Homo sapiens: one gene and its partner. The protein of the gene in region 1 binds, or shares a complex with, the protein of each later gene. Each region holds a gene or a part of one and is shown on either strand. Other genes may lie near its edges. A codon is read from its position in the direction of its gene.

The links.
Region 2: the proteins of ITPKA (region 1) and CALM2 are in contact, whole or in part, in a crystal structure (PDB 4UPU), measured with the Homo sapiens proteins. Residues at the interface, in NP_002211.1 of Homo sapiens: Asn165, His166, Trp167, Gln168, Lys169, Ile170, Arg171, Thr172, Met173, Val174, Asn175, Leu176, Pro177, Val178, Ile179, Ser180, Pro181, Phe182, Lys183; in NP_001734.1 of Homo sapiens: Glu12, Phe13 (codon at 4,536), Glu15 (codon at 4,530), Ala16 (codon at 4,527), Leu19 (codon at 4,518), Phe20 (codon at 4,515), Ile28 (codon at 4,491), Leu33 (codon at 4,476), Val36 (codon at 4,467), Met37 (codon at 4,464), Leu40 (codon at 4,455), Gln42 (codon at 4,449), Met52 (codon at 4,419), Glu55 (codon at 4,410), Val56 (codon at 4,407), Phe69 (codon at 4,242), Met72 (codon at 4,233), Met73 (codon at 4,230), Lys76 (codon at 4,221), Met77 (codon at 4,218), Lys78 (codon at 4,215), Thr80 (codon at 4,209), Asp81 (codon at 4,206), Glu85 (codon at 4,194), Glu88 (codon at 4,185), Ala89 (codon at 4,182), Arg91 (codon at 4,176), Val92 (codon at 4,173), Phe93 (codon at 4,170), Leu106 (codon at 3,704).

The regions. Positions count from the first base shown.
Region 1 is NC_000015.10:41,488,471-41,498,421, reverse strand, and holds the start of ITPKA (inositol-trisphosphate 3-kinase A), read right to left. Parts: upstream 4,549-9,951; 5' UTR 4,495-4,548; coding exon 4,006-4,494; intron 258-4,005; exon of another isoform or gene 1-257. UniProt on the Homo sapiens protein: Catalyzes the phosphorylation of 1D-myo-inositol 1,4,5-trisphosphate (InsP3) into 1D-myo-inositol 1,3,4,5-tetrakisphosphate and participates to the regulation of calcium homeostasis.
Region 2 is NC_000002.12:47,158,125-47,167,564, forward strand, and holds the end of CALM2 (calmodulin-2), read right to left. Parts: intron 4,539-9,440; coding exon 4,395-4,538; intron 4,269-4,394; coding exon 4,162-4,268; intron 3,735-4,161; coding exon 3,599-3,734; intron 2,681-3,598; coding exon 2,652-2,680; 3' UTR 1,960-2,651; downstream 1-1,959. UniProt on the Homo sapiens protein: Calmodulin acts as part of a calcium signal transduction pathway by mediating the control of a large number of enzymes, ion channels, aquaporins and other proteins through calcium-binding. Calcium-binding is required for the activation of calmodulin.

The DNA of each region.
Region 1 (9,951 bases):
ATCACCTACTCTCTTGACCTTGGTTTTCTGCATCTCATAAGAATCAAGAGCAGCAGCAACTAAGGCCAGTCCTAGCTAGCAGGTTACAAAATACTTTTTTTTTTTTTTTTTTTTTGAGACAAGGTCTCACTCCCATTGTCCAGGCTGGAGTCCAGTGGTGCGATCACAGCTAACTGCATCCTGGACTTCCAGGGTTCAGGTGATCCTCCCACCTCAGCCTCCAGAGTAGCTGGGACTACAGATGTGAGTCACCATGCCTGGTTGATTTTTTGTATTTTTGTATGTATGTATGTACATATTTATTTGAGTGGTGCGATCTCGGCTCACTGCTACCTCTGTCTTCCAGGTTTGAGCGATTCTCCTGCCTCAGTCTCCTGAGTAGCTGGGATTATAGGCGTGCACCACCAACGCCTGGCTAATTTTTATATTTTTAGTAGAGACGGGGTTTCATCATGTTGGCCAGGCTGGTCTCAAACTCCTGGCCTCAAGTGATCTACCTGCCATGGCCTCCTAAAGTGCTGGGATTGCAAGTGTGAGCCACCGTGACATTTTTTTTGTATTTTTAGTAGAGACAGGATTTTGCTATGTTGCCCAGGCTGGCCTCGAACTCCGGGGTTCAAGTGATCCTCCCGCCTTGGACTCCCAAAGTGCTGGGATTACAAGTGTGAGCCACTGCTCCCAGCCTACAAAAGATTTTCATACCTATTATCTCATCTGAGTCCTCCGTCCTACCACCTGAGGTTGCTATGACAGGATTTAGCCCCCCTGCCAGTAATGGGTATGGCCAAGCATGGCAGGAGTTGTGCAAGTGTCATGGAACTCAAATCACTGCCACCTTCCACCTTAGGGAGATACCTCCCCCAGAGAACATCACGCTTTTAAAAATGAATGTAAGCCCAGGCGCGGTGGCTGACACCTGTAATCTCAGCACTTTGGGAGGCCAAGGCAGATGCATCACTTGAGGTCAGGAGTTCGAGAGCAGCCTGGCCAACATGGTGAAACCCCATCTCTATTAAAAATACAAAACTTAGCCGGTGTGGTGGTAGGTGCCTGTAATCCCAGCTACTCGGGAGGCTGAGGCAGGAGAATCGCTTGAACCCGGGAGAAGCTTGAACATCCTCTGGCTCGGGCCTCCCTCCATGAAGGTGCCCTCTCTGGGAGACTAACACACAGCCAGAGGCTACCTGGGTATCTTGAGGCAAAGGCTAGGATTGCTGACTGTGTGAGAGACTTTAATGAAGTCACAGGAGGGCCCTCTGATAATTCCTCACTCCTAGGGCTGAACAGGGAGTACCTCTCTCTGGGCAGGGCTTGGCTGGATACTAGCCTCAGACCCTCCTTTGTCTAAGCTCCATTCGGAAGCCTTGAAGACACCTGCTCATGCCAGATACACAGTGTATCTTCTGCTGGAGCAGACCAGCAGGTGGGTGAGTGCTCTGTCTTTGGCACTCACCCTTGCTCCCTGCCTCCAGTCATCCAGGCTCTGGTTGAAGCTCTCTACCAGCCCAATACCCTCCCCATGTTCCAATTGCCCTATCAAACTAGCACTCCCTGTGGTCGTGGTGGTGGGAAGAGCAATCAGTTTAAATTTATAAAACGATTTGCACTAAGGTATAAGTGACCCACGACTTCACCTTCCCATGGGCATTAGCTGTTTAAAAAGGAAGTCTGTTAACCTAAATTCTGCTCTATAATTAGTGGAAAGCGATGTGTGGGAATTCTGAGTCCAGGAGGGGATGGCATCCAGGTCTCCTTACCTATCCTGGAGCACAGAAAGAAGAAAACCAGATGAACAGGAGCCAAACACCCTCTCTTTTCCTCCAGCAATACCCCACAATTGTTTGAGGAGGCAGGCAAGGCCATAGAGTCATGCAGCTGACCTTGCGGGTGGGCCTCCAACTTCTCCCCTGGCTGGTTAGGAAAAGCCTGCCTGTGACTTTTTCCTCTGCCGGAGTGAGGCTGCCCAGTTTCAATTTCCCTGCTCTGGGCAGGCTGGAGAGGGCTCCTAGGAGGTGAAGGGGACTACGTATGCCCCAGGCAGAGAGGTAGGCAGGCAGGCAGGCAGAAACTTCCTGGGCTCCGGCCTGCCTGGGCCGCGCGTAAGGGGCTGGTAAGCCGGGAGTCCTAGAGTCCGGCCCACGTGCATCCTTCACGGTCAGCCGGACCAGCCTTGCTTCCTGCCTGGGGAAGCCCTAAATTGGCCTGGGCCGGCGCGCTGTGCGGCTCTGGGACCTGCGGCGAGGCAAAGTCCGCCCTGGGCCCTTCCACACGGACTCAGGCAGCCTCTGTCAACAGCCCCTGGCTTATCTGCCGCCGCTGTGGCTGTTTGACTTCGGGGAGGCCCCGGCGGGCCTGGGGGTGGGGAAGGCCTGGAAGCCGCAGCCTTGGAGCTGGAAGGGCCCTCAGCGGCGATTTGCACCGGCTCCCGACGGCTCGGAGGGCGGCGGGGTCGCCCAGGTCCCCGAGGCTTGACCTTAGCCGGGGCGGTCTCTACACCCAGGCTTGGGCCGCAGGACCTCCTCCTAGCGCACTCCCTCTCCCAGGCACTTCGCCGAGTCCCTGCGGGCGGAAGAGGGAAGCGGGACGCGCCCGCGCTTCGCGCCCTTTCGCCTGCACCGGCTCTCAGGTGTCAGAGCTTCCGCGCCCCGGGAGCTGCTGCTCAGGCTTTTCCGAAGAGGCGGGGCGGGGGGCCTCTCACTGCCCCACACTCCACATCCTGGGAAGCCCCGGCATCCGCCCCCCGACCTAGGCAAGGGTTACCCCAGAAACGATCCTGGGTCCGGGGCTGCTCTGACCACCGGGGAAGAAGGGGAAGCGGCAGGCTAGTGACCGAGCCGGCGCACCCAGCACCTGGCGGCGGGGGGTGTTCCTGCTCTGTGAGGCTTTTCCCCTCTGGTGTCACTGACAAACCCCATCGGCCTCCGGGCTTGTGAACCCCTGCAGGTCGCCACAGCTTCCCTGCCTTGTCCCAGCCGATTGTGCGGCGGAGCAGGCGCGCGGCCACAGCTCTCCCCGCCCCGCCGCGCCGACCCGGACTTATGGGCAGGCCCCAGACGCCCGAGGCCGGGGGCGCCCCTCGCCTCTTCCTCGGCCTCAGGGACACTTGCGAAACGTGGATCTAAAGAAAGTCCTTCGCGCTGACCACGGACAGTTATTCAAGGTATTTGGCCTTGGTTAAAACGAGGGGAACAAGGAGGGTGTCCCGGGAGCCGCACATCCCTAAGTGGCGGGCGTCAGGAATGACTTAACAGTGCCCAGGGCTGTGTTTTCCGAGGGTCAGACCTGGTCCCAGAACACCCAGGCTATCAGAGGCAGAGACTAGCAGAGTGATCCTGCCCCCTTGCAGCCTCAGTTTACCGCCCCTCTCTGCCGCGCTCAGGAGCGGCGAGCCGGGAAGATGGGAGGCAGGGCGCGCACTGGGTGGGCTGCGTTCCGCTCCCAGCCAGAGCTCCCAGGCCCACGCCCCTCCCTCCCCTGCGTCCACGCCTCGTGCGGGCGCTGGGAGCAGACGGCAGCGGCTCCCGAGCAGAGCCTGGAGCGCCGCTCCACTCCCACTCAGGAGAGGGAAACCGTGGCAACGGCGGGGGTGCGGCCGCGGCACCGGAGAGGGGGCGGGGGGTAAGGGAAACTCTCCTTCGCCTCTCTCCTTCCGAGGGTTCACCCGGCAAGGCTCAGCCCCTCCGATCCCTCCTGTCCTAACCCACAGCCAACAAGGTCCGCTACCCCCGCTTCGCCCAGTCCCCGCGGCGGGTCGCCTGCTCCTCGCCCCGCTTCTTAGACGCCCCAGGGCCAGCGCCACGACCCGCCGGCGGAGCCGAGGTGAAAGTTGCCCAGGCGAGAGGTCGGCCAGGCGCCTCCCTCTGACCCCCAGATTCCTCCTAAACCGCGAGAACAGGACCTTCCGCTGGAGGGAGCATGGACAGGAGCGGGTCCTCCGGGAGCACCCAGCCAGGTCCCCCGTGCAGCCCCCGCGCCCGGCGCTGGCCCCGCCCCCGCGGCCCGTACCTGACCCACGTCCTCGCCCGCTTCCAGCTGCACGTTGCCGCGGCTCCGGCTCTCACTGTCGCTCAGCAGGTCGTCCTCCGAGTCCTCGAGCAGCGACGAGGAGCCAGTGGAGGAGACCGACGAGGTGGAAAGGCGGCGCGGCTGCTGCAGGTGCGAAGAGCCCGCTGCCGGGAGGCAGTCCCTCTCCCGCTCCGGCGGCCCAGGGCTGGTCGGGGGCACGTCGGGCTCCTCGGCTGTCACGGTCAGCTGAGGGATCACCGGGGCCGGGGGAGCCCGCGGAAGCCCGTTGGGGACCTGTCCCCCACGCCGCTTGGCCCCGCGGGCCCGGGGCTCCCCCGCGGCGGCGGCCGCAGCGACCGCCGCACAGCGCGCCTCGAAGAGCAGGCGCAGCTCCCCGACACTCCGGCGCGGGGCCCGCTCCAGCCCCGGGCTGCAGGGCCTCGCGCCCCCCGGCCGCGCCATGCCCGTTGGGCCCCCGGGCAGGGTCATTTCCCAGTGCCGGCGCCGCCGCTGAGCCCACCAGCCCGCGGCGCGCCGGGGACTGGAGCGGCTCGGCGCCCCCGGCTGGAGACGGCCCCGGGGCGGAGCCTGCGCCGCTGCACGCCCGCGCCCCGCCTCGGCCGCGCCCCCCGCCCACTCCTTCCACTTTCAGAGAAAGCGCGGGCCTCCCAGGGCCCCTGCGAGGGAGAGAAGGCTCTCGGTGACTCCTCGGGGTGGCGGGGAAGTCCAGCCTCCGTAGGCACAAAACCTGGGCCCGGGCCCCGAGGCTTCGCTCCGCCTGCCCTCGGGGAGGTGGGAGGGGCCGCTCCGCGCTGGGGCCTCGCAGCCTTCCCGGGCTTCGCGGCTGGGAGAGATTCCTCCAGGCCGCTCCACAGGCCCTGTCCCCGCGCAGGAGAAGCTGGTCCTACTCTTGGTCCCCTACCCCGTTCCTCGGGTTCCTTTGCGTGTTCATCCCTCCCGGGCAAGGGCTTCAAGTCTCGGGGCCTTTCTCCGGCCCGAGCTCCTGAGCAGAGTTGAAGGCCCCCGGCTTCCCGAAGAAGCCCCACCCCAGGGCGTGCACCCAAGTGGAGACTCTGCCCCAGGGACTAGCTGAGGCTGCTCCCCGCAAGTTCCCCACTTCCCGGCGGGCAGAGAACAAGGTCAGGGGGCGGGGCCTGGATCTGTCCCCATGGCCCAGCCTAGTCCCGGGCTGCATCTCCCCCGCTGCTGGGTGGCAGGAGCTGAGCCCGCCTTCCTCCTCCTCTGTTATAGGAGCTCGGGGCTTGGAGTCCGCCGTGTGGCGTTCAGCAAGTCATTTCACCTCCCTCGACTGCGGATTCTCCCGTTGCTGCGAGAATAAAATAAAAGACTTGAAATCAGGTACACCACACTCTAGATGTGATTTGTAGGCAGTCCCTTTACTCCCTCCGTATATTTCTGCATTTGTACATTTAGAAAAACCTCATCCAACCCACAGAGTTGTGTCTGTAAAACTAGGAAGACAGCACTGATGTTTAAGAGTTTCAGACACTGCAAAGTGCTTATCAGTGTCATTCCATGTGGATCTTCGGCCACTTCCCATGTTGGTAGTCAGCTGACCGACCGGCGAGGCTGCTTTGAGGAGAAGCCACTGTTTCCTATCTTACCATAGTGCCACAGGAGTGAGGGTCCCCCCTCAGGCACTCAGTGTCTGGGGATGGCTGGGGCCCTGGAGACAGAGCAGCCCCAGAAGGATTGCCTTGGATGCTGAGATGGCCGCAGGAGGGGCTTTCCTTCCCTTCTCTCCCCTCAGCCAGGGCTCAGGAATGGCCCAGGAGAAGGAAAGAAGAAGGTTCAGTGGGAAGACGGGAATCTTCGGCAAAGCATAGTGGCTCAGGCTTGTAACCCCAGCACTTTGGGAGGGCAAGGCGGGCAGATTGCTTGATCCCAGGAGTTCGAGACCAGCCTGGGCAACATGGCAAAACCCTGTCTCTACTAAAAATACAGAATATTAGGCAGGTGTGGTGGTGTGCACTTGTAGTCTCAGCTACTCGGGGAGAGGCTGAAGTGGAAGGATCACTTGAGCCTGGGAGGTCGAGGCTGCAGTGAGCTGAGATCACCACCACACTCCACCACCACACTCCACACTCTAGCCTGGGCAACAGAGTGATAACTTGTCTCAAAAAAAAAAAAAAAAAAAAAAAAAAAAGCTGAGTGTGGTGGCATGCACCTGTGGTCCCAGCTACTTAGGAGGCTGAGGTGAGAGGATTATTTGAGCCCAGGAGGTCGAGGCTGCAGAGAGCCATGACATTCCACTGCACTGCAGTCTGGGTGACAAGTCATACGCTATCTCAAAATAAACAAATAGGTGAAGATCCTGGAGAACTGAGGAAGGAAGCAAAATAATGTAAGAAAGAATGGCAATGAGAGAGGCAGGAGAAATAGAGGGAATGAAGGGGTAAGAGGAAGAAGGGCATAGAGGAGTTTGAATACTTGACTACTTCACGGAGAACCTGGGAAATCACATCGCCACCTTCTCTAGGACAACCATCTGGAGGAATCTTGAGTATGTGTGTGAGGGATGTACTCTGCAGCTTGAAGGACCTGGATCACTCGTGTCTCAGACACTCACTCCTCTGCCTCCTTCACAGCTACACTGACCTGCGTCAGGATGTGGGAAGGTGCTGCCCTCAGAGACGGGGCTGGGAGGAAACCCAAGGTGGGGAGAGCCTGCAAGGAACTGCCAGAACTGGAAAGGTAGGGAGGGCAATGAGGGGCGAGAACTTGTCCTGCACTCCTGTCTGTCAGGCGATGGATGGGCAGGGTTGGAGGTATAAGCAGGTTGGGCACTGGGTCTCTGTCCTGGCTGCCAAGAAAAAGGGGCAATTCCTTTTCTTCTTGTATCAGGCACTTGCTCAAGCCTTAGGTCTACTATACCAGCAGCCAGAGAATTGCTCTTTGCTCTACCTGCCCAGGTGTCTCTCATTGGAAAGATGAGCGCAAACCTGGAAATGGATGCTGAACTGAAATCCAATCCCATAGATTCTTAGAGCAGTAAGGGGCCTTATATCCATCTATCCTCCTCATTCACATTACGGAAGTACCAAAGAGGTTAAGTGGCTCCACCAGGGAGGTTAAGGACACACAGCCAGTTGATGGAAAAGGCAGTGTATCCTGGCTAGGTCCCCTGACTTCCTGCGTGCTTGTCGCCCAGGCTCGAGTGCAATGGCGTGATCTCGGCTCACTGCAACCTCTGCTTCCTGGCTTCAAGAGCCTCAGCCTGCTTCTCTAGCCTCAGCCTCCTGAGTAGCTGAGATTACAGGTGCTCGCCACCAGGCCTGGCTAGTTTTTGTATTTTTAGTAGAGACGGGGTTTCACCATGTTGGCCAGGCTGGTCTCAAACTCCTGACCTCAGGTGATCCGCCCACCCAGGCCTCCCAAAGCGCTGGGATTATGGCCATGAGCCACCTCGCTCATGTTCTCAAATTCTTTCATTAACATCTTGTATTTCCTGGCCGGGTGCAATGGCTCACACCTGTAATCCCAGCACTTTGGGAGGCTGAGGTGGGTGGATCACCTGAGGACAGGAGTTCGAGACCAGCCTGGCCAACGTGGTGAAATCCCGTCTCTACTAAAATACAAAGATTAGCTGGGCATGGTGGAGGGCACCTGTAATGCCAGATACTTGGGTAGCCGAGGCAGGAGAATCACTTGAACCCAGGAGGCAGAGGTTGCAGTGAGCCTAGGCGACAGTGCCAGACTCCATCTCAAAACAAAGAAACATCTTGTAGTTCCTTCTGAAGGTAGAGTCTGCCCCCACCTACTACAGTCAGAAAACATAAGGGTACGTCTTGGGGCAAGGCCTGGGAGTCCCTGTATAGCTGTAGGATGAGGTCAGCAGGCTCTTCCGTCCTCTTAGTCATGCCAGGAATAAACGTTGAAACCCTAGAACATCTGTTCTTTTATGACTCATTTTTCTCAGTCTTTGATGCTTGAGTAGAAGGGATGTGGAAAAAATCAGACTGACTAGTATGGAGGTGGAAGGGATGGCCTCTTGAGTGCCACAAAAAAAAAAAATGGTGGGGATGTTCAAACACTTAAGCATTAAGCAGGCCAGATAAAATTTTTTTTTTTTTTTTTGAGAGTCTTGCTCTGTCACCCAGGATGAAGTGCAGTGGCACCACCTCAGCTCACTGCAACCTCCACCTGCTGGCACAAGCGATTTTCCTGCCTCAGCCTCCCATGTAGCTGGGATTACAGGTGTGTGCCACCACGCCTGGCTAATTTTTTGTATTTTTAGTAGAGACAGGGCTTCACTACATTAATGGGCCAGGCTGGTCTCGAACTCCTGACCTCAGGTGATCTGCCTGCCTCAGCCTCCCAAGGTGCTCGGATTACAGGTGTGAGCCACTGCGCCTGACCGCCAGAGACAGTTTTTAAAAAATTAAACAACAGAAAAGGGGGACACTGGGGTGTAGAGGAATGTGTCAAGGTTGTTTTTTGTTTGTTTTTGGGTTTTTTTTTTTTTTTTTAGACAAAGTCTCACTCACTCTGTCACCCAGGCTAGAGTGTGCCATCATGGCTCACTGCAGCCTCCACCTCCTGGGCTCAAGGGATCCTCCTGCCCCAGCCTCCTGAGTAGGTGGGACCACAGGCACACACTACCATGCTCAACTAATTTTAAAAACTTTTTGTAGAGATGGAGTCTCCCTATGTTGGCCAAGTCTTGAACTCTAGCCTCAAACAGTCTTCTTCCTTCAGCTTCCCAAAATGCTGGGATTACAGGCATGAGCCATTGCACCCCGCCAGTGTGTCAAGGTTTTGATGGTCATTAGGTGGCTGTTCTGAGATAGGCCATGAGAGTCTCTCTGCCTTGGCCACAAGGCCAGCTTACATGTCTGAGCAGATAACCTTTTTTCTTTTCCTTTATTTATTTATTTATTTTTGAGACAGGGTCTCACTCGGTCACCCAGGCTGGAGTGCAGAGTCACAATCACAGCTCACTTCGGTCTCAACTTCCTGGGCCTAAGTGATCCTCCTGCCTTAGCCTCTCGAGTAGCCGGGACCACAGGCAGAGGCATGTGTCACCATGCCCAGCCAATTTTTAAATTTTTTGTAGAGACAGGGATCTCACTCTGTTGTCCCGGCTGGTCTTGAATTCCTGGGCTCAAGCAATCCTCCTGCTTTGGCCTACCAAAGTGCTAGAATTATAGGTGTGAGCCACTGTGCCCAGCCAGAACCTATCTTCTTGTGGTATCTCAGTTGGTTGATCCTCCTGTTCCCTACAGGTCTGCTTTTTTTTTTTTGAGGCAGAGTCTCGCTCTGTTGCCAAGGCTGTAGTGCATTGGTGTGATCTCAGCTCACTGCAACCTCTGCTTCCTGGGTTCAGGAAATTTCCTGTGTCAGCTTTTGAGTAGCTGGGATTACAGGCACCTGCCACCATGCCCAGCTGATTTTTATATTTTTAATAGAGATGAGATTTCTCCATGTTGTCCAGGCTGGTCTTGAACTCCTGACCTCAGGTGATCTGCCCACCTTGGCCTCCCTAAATGCTGGGATTATAGGCATGAGCCACTGCGCCTGGCCTGAGGTCTGCTTCTTGAAGTGCCTGAGTCTTCACCCCCATCAAAGACCTTCAGGGGTGGGCCCAGTGACTGGTACCTGTAATCCTAGCACTTTGGGTGGCCCAGGCAAGAGGATCACTTGAACCTAGGAATTTGAGGCCAGCCTGAGCAACATGCTGAAAACCCATCTCTACAAAAAATAAGAAAATTAGCCAAGCATGGTGACACATGCCTGTGGTCCAAGGTATTCAGGAGGAAGAGGTGGGAGGATCACCTGAGCCCAGGGAGGTTGAGGCTGCAGTCAGCCGTGATGAAGCCATTGCCCTCCAGCCTGGGCAACAGATTGAGAGACCCCGTCTCAAAAAAAAAAAAAAAAAAAAAAAATTTCAGGATTTATCATGACTGAGGGCTGCATCTCTTCTAG
Region 2 (9,440 bases), on another chromosome or scaffold:
AGTACTTTGGGAGGCCGAGGTGGGCGGATCACAAGGTCAGGAGTTTGAGACCAGCCTGGCCAACATAGTAAAACCCTGTCTCTTCTAAAAATACAAAAAATTAACTGGGCGTGGTGGCGGGCGCCTGTAATCCCAGCTACTCGGGAGGCTGACGCAGAATTGCTTGAACCTGGGAGGCAGAAGCTGCAGTGAGCCGAGATTGCGCCACTGCACTCCAGCCCAGACAACAGTGCTAGAGTCCATCTAAAAAAAACAAAAACAAAAACAAAAACACAACTTGAAGGTGATATCACAGTCCTGGGTTCCAATAGGATTATGTTGTAGGAAGCATTGGAACAGATTTGAACCCAGCTCATTATGACCACAGTTAAATTATACAATCATTCTACTCGTTTCCTGTAAAATCAAAATGCCAAGACTTCGTGACTTTTGTAAAGATTTCAACAATAGAAATGACCAATTATGACATAGAAGAGCCCAAAAAATGTTTCTCCTACCTTTGTTGTCCTTGTTAATTATACCTTGATATCAATTTATATAAACCTCATTGTTGACGCTGGAAAAACACAAATTGACTGCCTAAGTCCCTCATTTTTCAGGGTCATAACTGGTTTAATAGCACAATTAATGGAACACTTAATGCAAATGCCAAGGACAATGTTAAGGGCCTTACTTTCATTATTTCACTTAACTTTTAAAAAAGCCCCACTCATAATCCCAACACTTTGGGAGGATGAGGTGAGGGGATCACTTGAGCCCAGGAGTTCAAGACCAACCTGGGCAACATGAGTCCCTGTCTTTACAAAAAACAAACCTTGTTTGGATTTCCTTTCGACAAAATTTACTACATCCAATTAAGGGGAGTAGAGTGCACATCTAAAATCTTCCTATTTAACTGATTACCCGAGTATGTGATACCATTAGAACTATCAATGCCTGTAACTTCCCTTGCTCTAAAACATACTAATAGTAGTATTAAGATAGTCAATGGGGCAGTAACCTGCCAAATAATGAATTACCCCTGGGAAATTAAAGACCTTGTAGCTATAATAACCAGGTAACAATTACACTCAATGTTTTAATCTTGGCTCTGGTTTGCTATGGAATCTTTCATTAAGCATTTAAAAGGTACTTTAAAAAAATAAAAACCCTGATAACCACCTTTGGAGTAGCTCAAATTATAGAGAAAGCAATGATAGAAGCCAGCAAAAACTAAAACAAGGTGTAGTCATTGCCAATTTACTCCTAAAGACATCTTTTTTTGCAAAATGTTGCAGATGGGCAAGCTGAAAATTCTCATCTTATAGAATTAAAAAGCACAATGAATAAAATATTAGTTAATAGAAGTAAAACTATAAGGATGCTCACCCCAACTAGATTTGGTTTTTTTTTGAACATGCAAACATTTAAAACATCACTGCACAGCTTAAGTCAACATGGACAAATGCCAAAGTTGAAAACTATAAAGGTAGGAAACAGTAAATACCTACTTTATGCCAATTCCCATACTAGGTACACTTAAGTTTTTGAGTCTTTCATTGGGGCCTTTTGAAGTTGTCAAATACAATCTGGATAAAGAAACAAAACAAAAAACTTGCCCCTCTTTTCCCATGACTGCCACCATCTTGTTCTGTGGGCAGAGGCAACTCACAGGTATCCTGGATCTAACACAGTAGCACAGTACGACACACATGGTGGTGGAGGAATGTTGTGGGCACGCATGATGGTGGCCCCCAAAAGGTGACTACACTAAGCCAGCCCCCATAGATCCCCATCTTTTCGGCCTTCCTCTTCAATCTCTCCTTAGTTACACCCCTTATTTTGTTCCTCTTATTTTCTGTGCTTCTCTCCCTCTTTTCTCACTTTTCCAATCCTTTTCTCCTTCCTTTCCCACCTTCACTATTTCTGCCACCCATCTCCATATGCTTCCCCACACGAGAAAAAATTATCTAGACTATACCAAGCAGAAACCAATGCCATATTTTATTTTCAAAATTATTAGACTTCAACAGTTAAATGACTCAGATGCAGAGCAACCATTGGGTAAATTGTAATTTTTTTATTGGAAAACAAATATACAACTTGGAATGGATTTTGAGGCAAATTGTGCCATAAGCAGATTTTAAGTGGCTAAACAAAGTTTAAAAAGCAAGTAACAATAAAAGAAAATGTTTCTGGTACAGGACCAGCAGTACAAAAAAATAGTGTACGAGTACCTGGATAATACACCCGTTTTGCAATAGTGCAACTTTTAAGTACATATTGTTGACTGTCCATAGTCCACGCAGAGTTACAACTCCACACTTCAACAACAACATGCTGACAGTTCCTAAAGAAAACTACTTTAAAAAAGGCATAACCCAGATGTTCCCTCATTTGACCAACTCCATCTAAGTTTAGATGTGCAGAAGGGCTTAGATATATCCAGAGTAAGCCACATGCAACATGTTACTTGATCAATTTTCTAAAATAAGGTTTTAGGACAATGACAGTAAGATAAGGGAAGAAAACATGGAGGAATGAAGTCCTAATTACTATACATGCATATTTTTTTGACAGTAGGGAGAAACCTTTTACAGATAAGTTACAAACAAAGAAAAGGCAAATAAACAATTTTGTACAAGAAATTTAACACATTCTGTACAAGGTCTTCACTTTGCTGTCATCATTTGTACAAACTCTGAAAAAGAAGAAGTACACAAAAAATGAGTCAATAGCAAAAGACCAAAAAAAAAAAAAAAAAAAAAAAATCACATTTACTCAATTACTGAGTACTCTTTCCATTCCTCTCTTTCCTCAGAATTACCATTAAGTACAGAGGGAAGCTAGTTTATTGCCCAGGCTGGAACTTCATTAACCATAACTATTCAGGTTTATTAGTAAGAGCCAAATTAACGCTTTAGATAGGCCAATATAAAAAAGAGCATTCTTGGCTCTTAGTTTAGACTTGAATTTTAAGTCTGCTGGATTACAAGACAATATTGTAAATTCAATGCTATGGGCTAGGTTTAATTTTTATAACATTACATTTTATGCTCTTTTCTAAGTTAAGTAGTTACATCATGAAAAAAATACAGAGTTTTACTCAAAATCCTTCAGTTTCATATGCCTTGCTTCCTGATATGGCCATCTTAAAAGTTAGTAGATACGATACTTTTGAAGCACATGTAAACTTCAGTTTCAGACTAAAGCCAATTAAAGAAAAAAGACAATACAGTGCGGGGAAAGAAAGTCACATTAATTTCATTTTAGGAAACTTGGAATAAGTTTGCTTTCCACATTGTTCCACAATCACACAAACACTGAACAGTGCTTCTCAAACTTTATACATGAATCACCCAAGAATCCTATTAAAATGCTGATTCCAGGTGTAGGGATAGAACCTGATAGTAAATATTTCTAAATTAAGTTCTCAAGTCAGAGCAATGTTACCTAGTCTGCAGACAACACTCTGAATTTTAAGAAGGTTAAATGTAAGTAACTGTTTTAGCAACCTAATTTCAGGGGAAGGGTCACTAATTTCGATCAGTTCCCTAACAAAGAGCCTCTTATCTTAAAAATCAAAGTGAAGAATGAGGCGTGAGACTGAAACATTTACCTTCATAGTTTACTTGACCATCACCATCAATATCTGCTTCCCTGATCATTTCATCAACTTCTTCATCTGTTAACTTCTCTCCAAGGTTTGTCATCACATGGCGAAGTTCTGCAGCACTAATATAGCCATTGCCATCCTAGCAAAAAATTTAGTATAGTTTCTGAGTCAAATTACAGACTTGAGAGTTGGAATGGAAATTTATTAAGTTTACTACTAAATTTCACATTGGGGGAAAAACATACTTTAGAAATGCATACAAATCTACACAGTTGACCTACAAATGTCATTAAGAGCCAAGCAAAATGTCCTACATTGAAATCATTATTTCCTAGTCCCAAAGTCAAGTGACACCTCCTTTGACAAGATGAACGCAATACATATATTAGAAAGTCTATACTGAATTCTTAAAAAGCTTTTGCTTGGTAATTAAAATATGTTGGTAAATCATCAAAAAAAAAAAAAAAAAAAAAAAAAAAAACAACCAAAAAAACACAAGTCTTCATAATGAGTCCTGGTATCTTCATTTCATCCTCAAAATTTAACATATCCAGTCCTTGACGTACCTTATCAAACACACGGAATGCTTCTCTAATTTCTTCTTCACTGTCTGTGTCTTTCATTTTTCTTGCCATCATTGTCAGAAATTCAGGGAAGTCAATTGTGCCATTACCTGAAATGGTTTAGTGGAAACATCAAAGCTTTAGTGGAAACATATAAGCAAACAGCAAAGGTTTAGTGGAAACATCTAAGTATCACTTCTTCAACCCCTCCCAGCCCCACAAAATTGAAGACTTACCATCAGCATCTACTTCATTAATCATGTCCTGTAACTCTGCTTCTGTGGGATTCTGCCCAAGAGATCTCATTACAGTTCCCAATTCCTTTGTTGTTATAGTTCCATCACCATCTTTGTCAAATAGTGAAAAAGCTTCTTTGAATTCTGTTTGAAAGAAAGACCACAATCCAAATACACAGATTAATAATAAAATGTAACCTAAATGAAACGTATTAACTCTTAAAGCCTACTCAGTGGTGGGATCGTGCCAGTGAACAGCCACTGCACTTCAGCCTGGCCAAACTGTAAGACCCCACGTCTCAGAAAAACCCAAAAACTTTTAACGGAAAAATACCAATGGAGGTAGCAATTGAAATGTGACTTTGACTCCTAAAGATTAACCAATCTTTATGATACCTTATGATAATATTTCAAATATATCTTTGACCAATCATACCACTGTACTTTCATGCTGACCTAAGTAAAATTATCCTAGGTTTACAGAGGAAAAGAACCAAATCCCCAAATGACTGGCTCCTCTGTCACTGAAGCTGCTCTGTGGAACATAATTCAAAATTACAGACCTAACCTACACTCACAAAACAAAAATAAGACTACTGGTACCCAAATACGTATTTCTACAGAGTAATTAAACTGTTTCTGTATACTGTGTTTAGAGTTAGCCACTATGTCTAAATCAATCACCTACTAAATTAAAACAGGCTACTTTCCCTTTCTAGTAAGGCAGGAGAAGGGACTATATAAAGAGTCTATAACAATGGGCTGATCAAGATATAAATGTCCAGTTTTAGCTAAATGCATGTCACTGAGAACAAAGATCATTTTGAGCTTTCTTTGGAATATTAAAACCCCAACCTTATATAGTGAAACTGATTATTCCTCAACATCTTGTTGTGATAGTATGTTCCTTCCTGCTGTTGTTTTTTTTTTTGAGATGGACTTTCGCTCTTGTTGTCCAGGCTGGAGTGCAATGGTGCAATCTCAGCCCACCGCAACCTCCTCCTCCCAGGATCAAGCAATTCTCCTGCCTCAGCCTCCCGAGTAGCTGGAATTACAGGCATGCACCACCACGCCCAGCTAATTTTCTATTTTTAGTAGAGATGGGGTTTCTCCACGTTGGTCAGGCTGGCCTCGAACTCCCAACCTCAGGTGATCCGCCTGTCTCTGCCTCCCAAAGTGCTGGGATTACAGGGCATGAGCCACTGTGCCCGGCTATATGTTCCTTCTAATACATCACTAGATTACATGGAAACCTCCTGCTGGTGCAACACTCCAGACTACCTGGCTTCATTCACCATTTACAGATAAACTAAAACAAGCCAGGTGCAGTGGCTCACACCTGTAATCCTAGCACTTTGGGAGGCCAAGGTGGGCAGACTGCCTGAGCTCAGGGTGAGTTCCAGACCAGCCTGAACAACAGGGTGAAACCCCGTCTCAGGCCGGGCGCGGTGGCTCAAGCCTGTAATCCCAGCACTTTGGGAGGCTGAGGCGGGTGGATCATGAGGTCAGGAGATCGAGACCATCCTGGCTAACACGGTGAAACCCCATCTCTACTAAAAATACAAAAAAATTAGCCGGGCGTGGTGGCGGGCGCCTATAGTCCCAGCTACTCGGGAGGCTGAGGCAGGAGAATGGCGTGAACCTGGGAGGCAGAGCTTGCAGTGAGCTGATATTGCGCCACTGCACTCCAGCCTGGGCGACAGAGCGAGACTCCGTCTCAAAAAAAAAAAAAAAGAAGAAAAAGAAAAGAAACCCCGTCTCTACTAAAACACACACACACACAAGCTGGGTGTGGCGGCGTGTGCCTGTAGTCCCCCGTCTCTACTAAAACACACACACACACACACACACACACACACACACACACACGCTGGGTGTGGCAGCGTGGGCCTGTAGTCCCCCGTCTCTATTAAAACACAAACACACACACAAGCTGGGTGTGGCGGCGTGCGCCTGTAGTCCCAGCTACTGGGGAGGCTGCAGCAGCAGAACTGCTTGAACCCGAGAGGCGGAGGTTGCAGTGAGCCGAGATCACACCACTGCACTCCAGCTTGGGCAACAGAGTGAGACTTGTCTCAAAAAAAAAAAAAGAAAGAAAGAAACTAAAACAGACTAACTTTGATACTGCAAAGTTATACCAATCAGTAAATAATAAAGCTAGTATTTTCCAAGTAAGTCATTTCCCAGAAAATATTAGACCCTATCAGCAAATGAATACAAAAAGTTTCCAAGTTCATTGGGCCATTAAGCTTTCCCAACATAGCCATACATTTGAAAATTTATGTGACACATGTGTAAGAAATGGTGTACCTTCTTTACGGTCCAAGGCCAATTTATTCCCTGCCTGCTTATCCCTAACTCCAATTCGCGTACACCTTCCAGTTTCATTCCGTATTACCTCTTCCCTGGACTCAACTATTCTTCCACTAATTTGCCCATTACCACATAAATATCTTCACATCGCTTAGCCTAAAACTAAATTGAAACCTTAGTTATATTTTAAATGCTTGCCCTTATCCCTCCCCAAATTTTGGAAGGCACTACTACTCATACCAATTTCCTCTCTCCAAACAATCCACTATTTTAAAATGACATCCAGCTCCAACTCATCACCTGAAAATGCTGAGTTTACCAATGACTACTAGTCAGTCACCCAATCCATCAAGCATGCTTCAATGTGAAGCCATATGGCATAGAAACTAAAATGAGACTTTGTAACTTGACTACTGGGTTAGAATTTCCTAGCTCTGTTTCTTCTTCTGGCAATGCAATATGGACAAGCTACTAAACCTTTTCTGCCTCAGCTTCCTCATTTCTGTGAAATGACATAAATGTGCCCAGTAAGTGGGGTGACACAGTATACCATGCCCACAAGGGGTATTCACCTGGTCACCCCCCATAAAAAAATTAGTATGTGTCAAACACTTAGAACTATGTCCAACAAATACATACTTAATAAATGTCAAGATAAAGACTATCTCATTTTTTTGCAGCATCCAAAACTGCATGGAAAAACTCTCAAAATTTTTCTTGGCCTTCGTAACAGTACTTTGATTTTCCTCCTACCATATACTGCCAAAGGCTCTTACTCCTGTCTCTTATGTCTAGATGTGACCAATTTTATCCTTTTTTTCCACTCCTTGGCCACTTCATCTATACCCACTTACAACGAAGATATCTTTAGTCTACCCATCTCGCTCAATAAATGTCTTTATTTCTGGCTGTCTACAGGATATAGCTCCCCTGGCTGATGACAAGCAAAACATATGAAAATGAATTCTATACTCCCAGGCAACCCTAAAGGTACTAGCAAAAGCCCAAGAGCCACTTTTAACTCTTTCAGTCTGAAATCTGTCAACAGGTCTCGAATTCTATCATTTAAATACTGCCTGATTTTTCCTCCATCTCTACAACCAGTATTTTGGTTCAAGGCTCCATCGTCCTTTGCCAGGGCTATTACAATTGCCTCCTAACTGCATTCTTTCTTATTTAAATATTACTGGTTTATAGAGGAACTCATCTAATACCAATCAGAAGGTTCATACCACACTAATTGATTTTATGAAGATAGTATACAGTGCTAACCTAGATCAACCTAATGACAAAAATAGATCAGGGAGTCTCCACCTACAAATAGCACAATTGATAAAGACATTTCAATTTTACTGTTTTTAAACAGAATGTAGAAATATCTAGAAATACATATATTGGAGTTCAGACACATTGCACCTTTCACCTAATTTAGGTTACAAGAAAATTAAAGGACTTTGAGGTATTTGTTTATATTACATTCTCTGCTATGGGTATCTTTTAACACCACCATTAGGTGCATAAATTCCCAATGTTTAATTAGCAGTAATCACCTTTCTATTACATGATTTAACAAAAAGCTAAATACTGGAAGATGCATAGTGTAAGACTATGTATAACTTTCGAGAAATTTAAAAATCTAATAACACTTAAAATGTTTGCTAGAATAAGTAAAATGCAGAAAATAAAACCGTATCTATGCTAATACCATTTGTTATTCATTCAAGAAAGGAACAAATAACATTTCTTTTAAAGGTCAAGGTTTATTCCAAATTTTTACTTGTATTTTTATACTAAAGAGTAAAAAATACCTGTAAAAACTCAAAATAATAAACCCCAAAGTAAAATTTTAATTCACCTGCCTTTACAGTTTTCCTGTACTTCAGAACTAGCGTAATCTTTATGTATAGAAGCATATAATTCTAAACTGTAACTCCCAGGAATGACCTGAAATTAAATCCAAGAGTCAAAACCTAAACACACAATAAAGAGAACAGGTCCTGAATGCCACAGAACAGCTATCTTCTACATAATTGATAGATATAAGGAACCTACCAAAATCCATTTTAGCTGACCAAACTGAAACTTTCAGAAAAATCTATTACTCAAGTTTTATTTGTTCATTAGCAACCCCAAGGCCCTTCCCTAATTAGTTTATTACCTAAACATATAATTTTATTAAAATAACATGTTTTAAAAATTTTATTAAAATAGGTTATCACAAGACAATTACAAAACAAATCAAATGACTGTTTATTAACTTCTATTTCTTCACAAAATTCTGAACTTAATAATCCCTTAAAGATCATGTACTGGAACTCTTTTGGCGCTTCATGCAGTTGTTGCTATACATTGAGTAATATTAATATTTTTCTCAAACAAATTTGGACCTTGAAAATTTAATGAAAGTTTAGGTACAGACTTCTTAAGGAAAAAATACTGTACATTTTTCCTATCAGTCTTCCAAAAGTCAAACAGCAACAACTAATGACATCATGGCAGAGTTATCAACAAAATGAAATTGTTAGTGATGTCATACTAGACTGGAATGCTTTATACGACCAAGTAATATAAAAAATTTTAGGCCGGGAGCAGTGGCTCATGCCTGTAATCCCAACACTTTGGGAGGTCAAGGTAAGCGGATCACCTGACGTCAGCAGTTCAAGACCAGCCTGGCCAACATGGTGAAACCCCATCTCTCCTAAAAATACAAAAACTAGCCGGGTGTGGTGGTGC